2 separate regions of the Homo sapiens genome follow, and region 1 is linked to region 2. Evidence: fine-mapped expression QTL. Tissue or cell type: lung. Region 2 holds a variant in brackets; the other region holds the start of a gene. All regions are shown on one strand. Distances are from middle to middle.

Region 1 (2,500 bases), 71 kb before region 2:
TTTCCTTAGGGAGAGAAATTCTCTCTACATGGAGGATATCACCTCTAGAATCCCATCTCCCCAACAACCCCACCCCTTCAAGCAGACAAAGTCGGTGACAATTCTTCTGAAGCTAATAGCCAAGCTGTCCTCACCTGGTCTCAAATGATTCTCTGCTCAGACAGCAGGGATTGTGTGCGTGCACACACACAACAGGGACTCTCTCTTTTTGTGTGTGTGTGTGTGTGTGTCTTGTACATGCACACACATATGTACAACACAAATACAGAGGCACCCCAGGTCTTTCTCTCTCTCTCTCACTCTCTCTCTCTCTCTCACACACACACACAAGCACAACATGAATACAGAGGCACCCCCAAGTGTTTCTCTGCCTGTCTCTGTCTCCCTCTCTCAGTGTCTGTCTCTATGTCTCTGTCTCTGTCTCTCTCTCTCTCTCTCTTTCACACACACAGGCACAACATGAATACAGAGCACCCCCAGGTCTTTCTCTCCATCTGTCTCTTTCTGTCTGTCTGTTTTTCTGTCTCACATACACACGCACACACACACACACCATGAACACATGGGCACCCCAGGTCTCTCTCCCTCACTCAGTGTCTCTGTCTCTGTCACACACAGAGTGTCACAACGTCTGGCTCTGGACAGCCATGGGTGATCAGCTGCCCGGCCCTCTCCTCTCCCTTCGCCCCATGCCCCGGAGTCGGTACCCTGCCCCACGGCTGGCCCCCAGCCCCAGGACCACTCACCCTCCATGATGCCCCCAGTTGCGGGCTCCGGCGGTCTCCGATGGCGGGAGGCAGCGGGCCCCTTCGGGCCAGCGGGCAGAGGGACGGTCTCCGGGCACTTGGTTGCGGGCTGCGCCCCTGCCTCCGCGCTCCGCAGGTCCGGTCGGTCCGGGCAGAGGTGAGCAGGGGGCGTGCGCTCCCAGGCCCCGGGCCCTGGCCGGTTTCCCTCCCCTCGGGCTGACTGGCTCCCGCGCAGCGCTGCTGCCCGCAGGGCTCAGCCGCCCGCCGCCCCTCGCCTCCCGACCAGGGGAAGGAGGGGGCTCGTGAGGCGCAGTCGTCATGGCACCCGCGCACCTGTGCCCGCCGAGCGAGGGCGCCCCGGGCCCGCCTCCCGCATGGCGCTCTCTCCACAGAGCCCGAGCGCCCCTCCGAAGTAGGGGACACACCCCTCCTCCCACTGCAGCCCTGGCAGCGGCGTCCCGTAATTCCCCACCTCTCTCCCGTGCCTCATATGCCAGCCTCTGTCCCCACTCCTCATCCTTGCCCACCCTAGCCTGGGGTCCAGCACTCTGGGCCTTCCTGAGAAGGGGATGAGAGGTAGCTGTGAAAACAGGAGGGCTTCGGGAGGGAGGCAGGGGGGAGCCCCACCAGCTCCCGGCTCTCCCAGGAGAATGGGGACAAGTTCTGCTAGGTGACCACGGCTTTGAAATTAACCAGTTCAGGCATTCACCGGGTGGTACCCTTGGAAAAGTTTCTTATAATAATACCTGTGCCTGAGTGTGTTTCTGCATTTGTAAAATGATTTTGAGGGGAGTAAATGTGATACCAAAGTTTCAGCCCAGCCCATAGTAGATGCTCAACAAATGGTTCCTTGAGCTGAATTGGAGAATACTCATCTCCAGCCCCTGTCAGGCACCCAGCAGGCACCACCATAAATTTTCGCCACATGAATAAAGATCCCAGGTTCTATCTGCACTCCTGTGTTTTTCTTGCAGCACTGTTTACAATAGCTAAGATTTGGAAGCAACCTAAGTGTCCATCAACAGATGAACGGATAAAGAAAATATGGTACATATATGTAAATGGAGTACTATTCAGCCATAAAAAAGAATGAGATCCAGTCATTTGCAACAACATGGATGGAACTGGAAATCATTATATTAAATGAAATAAGCCAGGCACAGGAAGCAAACGTCACATGTTCTTACTTATTTGTGAGATCTAAAAATCAAAACAGTTGAACTCATGGACATAGTAGAAGCATGTGGTTACCAGAAGCAGGGAAGGGTAGTGGGAGGATAGGGATGGTTAATGGGTACAAAAAAATAGCTAGAAAGAATGAATAAGACCTATTGTTTGACAGCACAATAGGGTGACTATAGTCCATAATAACTTAATTGTATATTTTTAAATAGCTTAAAAAGTATAATTGGATTGTTTGTAACTCAAAGGATTAGTGCCTGAAGGGATGGATACCCCATTCTCCATGATGTGCTTATTTCACATTACATGCCTGTATCAAAACACCTCATGTACCCCATAAATATATACACCTACTATGTACCCAACTATTTTTTTAAAAAAAGATCCCATGTTCTAGGCAGATGAAAGAAAGTGAATGGTCTATTCCTTCCTCTTTTAGGAGTCAGGAGTTTGCTCACTGGACACTGGGGAAACAGTTGGCATCAAGATTCTTCCTAGTCTCACTTCTTTCCCTAGTTCCTCCTCTGTCCAGAGCAGTGGGCAGAGTCTCACAGCTAGAAGGTCCTTAGGGG
Region 2 (2,758 bases):
TACAATGGGTTCCCTGGGAACACTAGTATATTGCAGTTCCCATGGAACTATATAAAAGGGGACTTAGAGTTGAAAGAGCTGGTGAAAGAGTCATCAGGGTATCAACAGCCTGGATTTGTCACTTACTGTCTGTGGGACCTTGGGTCCTTATGCCCTTAGTTTTCAAATCTTGGTAAATTGCAACTGATCATCTCCAAGGCCCCTTGCAGCTGCCACTGTGGATTCTAGGACTTGGCCACAACCAGGAGCCACCTTGGGAGCTCTATAGACTCTTGATGCCTAAGTCTCTCTCCCAGAGAGTCTGATTTAATTAGTGGGGGCTGGGGCTTGGGAATGGAAGGGAGGGTAAAAGCTCCCTGGGTGACTCTAACGTGCAGCCAGGTGAACTCTGCACCATACCATCACCTCTCAAACTAAAGTGTGACACCTGGGGACACTGCCAACGTGCAGATTCTGATGCCACATGTCTAGGTGGGGCGTAAGAGTCTGCATTTCCACCCAGCAGGTCCAAGGACCACACTAAGTAGCAAGGGCTACTCCAGTGCAGTGGTTCTCCAAGGGCATCAGCATCACCCACAGCATTAGCATCACCCCAGAACTTGTCAGAAAGGCACATTCTCAGGCACCACCCCAGTCCCACAGAATCAGAAACTCTGGGGGTAAGGCCCAGGCATCTGTGTTTTAGCTGAAGCATCACTGGCCTAGAGGGGCCAGGCCTCCTCCTGATGTAGCTGCTTCCTGTATTGATGATGATAATGGGGTGGTAATGACAGTAACTGAGTGCTGGCTGCTCCTGCCTGCCTAAGGGCATGAGGTTTACACGCTCATGGAAATTTTTTGTGCCCTGGGTTCCTCCTGCTTCCCCTCTGAGCAGACTATTTCAGGACAGAGCAGCAGAGACAGAGTCTCTTCACTCTCTTCTCTCGCTTTGTTCATGCTTCTGGTACTCAGAGGCACACGTGACCCTCGGTGTGGAGGCCGCCCTGGGCTGTAACTCAGGAGGCCTAATTCTTATCCCAGCCCCTCCACTATCAGCCAGGGGGAGCTCAGAGACACTACTTCTTCATGGGCCTTGTCCCCTCATCTGTAAAATGAGGGTTTGGACTAGATGATTTGGGGTCTCAACCAGACCAGACATCCTCTGACTCCATGATTCTACTAAACAAAGGCTCTTCAGACAGCCCTCTGTCAAACAGGAGCCCCCCATGACTTGAGCTGCCAGTCTCTGAAATGTCACTCAATTTCCAAAGTAGGGACACACAGGATGCAGACAGCGAGCAAAACAACTGCTCATCAAGGGATCGTGCCGTGCATCACTGGGCACAATTAGGCATCACTTTAACAAAGCTGTTTGTTGTAGTGCTTACAGAGCTGGCTGGCTCTAAAAGGCTTAAGACAAAAAGCAGCCGGACTTGCTCCCTCTTGACAAATCCCCTCCCCCAGGGACAACCACTTTCAGGTCTTTGGGGGTGTTTTACTCCCGATCTCTAGAGCAATGTTTCTGAGCCTGTTTCCTGTCTCATGCCCCTTATAGAGAAAAGGGCATGGGAGGAAGAGCTCACCGAGGACCACATACGTCCAGAAAGTCCCACCGCAATAGCACACACAGCTACTGGGCCCGGGAGGGTTGTCGGGAAGAGAAGGGCAGAAAGGCACTTC[G/A]GGAAGGCGCGTCTTCTGAGACGTGGGGAAACCACTCAACTTGAAAGTGCCAGTGGGTTTAGGGGGATTTTTTTCTTTCACTTCCTATTTCATGGACTTGTATATTGTGCAAGAGTTTTACAAGCACTTAATGACTTCTTACAAATATCTCCAGTTTAAAGAAAGGAACATCCCCAACATGCAGTGACCCTTGGGGTATGTTTTTCCTCAAACGCCCAAAAACCTGGATCAGTGGAGATGGGTGTTGATGGGGACATAGGGAACAGAGCTAAAGTCCTGCCAGGGCAAAGCTCACGGGAGCTGCTGGGGAGAGCAGCCGCACGCTCAGAGGGCTGTGTGGACACCCCTCTGACAAACGCACACACGAATCCTGCATCTCAGAGGTGCCTTCTCACGTCCTGCTGCAGAAGCCCCTGCCTCTCTAGGAAATAATGTGCTACAGAGAGTTGGCCTCAGAGAAGAAAGCTGAGCATGAGGCCCTCCAGCCAGTGGCTATCATACTCAGTCAGAATAACTTCTAACCACACAAGAGACCTAGAAAGCAATATCTTCTTCTCAGAATCCAAATTGAATCCTTTCTTGGGCCAACTCTTTCTTGCTGTGGGACCTCAGGCAAGTTACTTAACTCCAATCTCAGTTTCTTCTTCAGTAAAGTGAGGACAAGAGCTCTTTCAAAAACCTGTATGCAATCTGGGCATGGTGGCTCACGCCCGTAACCCAAGCACTTTGGGAGGCCAAGGTGGGAGGATCACTTAAGTTCAAGAGTTCAAGACCATCCTGGGCAACACAGTAAAACCCTGGTTCTATAAAAAATACAAAAAGTAGCTGGGTGTGGTAGTGCATGCCTGTAGTCCCAGCTAGCTACTTGGGAGGCTGTGGTGGGAGGATCGCTTGAGCTTGGGAGGCAGAGGTTGCAGTGAGCCAAGATCATGCCACTGCACCCCAGCCTGGGCAACAGAGCCAGACCTTTTGAGACTTTGTCTCAAAAAAATAAAAACAAATAAATAAAGTTTTAAAACCTGTATGTAGTGCTGGGCAGAGTAGCTCACACCTGTAATCCCAGCACTTTGGGAGGCCGAGGCGGGCAGATCACGAGGTT

What was found. PIP is the estimated chance that this variant, and not a neighbour inherited with it, causes the effect.
Region 1: it holds the start of NPFFR1, and the variant in region 2 is fine-mapped to the expression of NPFFR1 in lung (TOPMed, PIP above 0.99).

The regions. Positions count from the first base shown.
Region 1 is chr10:70,282,924-70,285,423 of GRCh38, forward strand. It overlaps NPFFR1 (neuropeptide FF receptor 1), which reads right to left and starts at 1,081. Exons shown (of 4, transcript NM_022146.5): 1 at 747-1,081. The coding sequence starts at 753. RefSeq lists an enhancer at 288-789.
Region 2 is chr10:70,353,883-70,356,640 of GRCh38, forward strand. All of the region lies in intron 2 of LRRC20 (leucine rich repeat containing 20), which reads right to left. Among named protein-coding and RNA genes, the nearest start is that of LRRC20, 27 kb to the right of the region's middle. RefSeq lists enhancers at 1,464-1,563, 1,784-1,993. The variant G/A (reference allele first, on the strand shown) is at 1,660.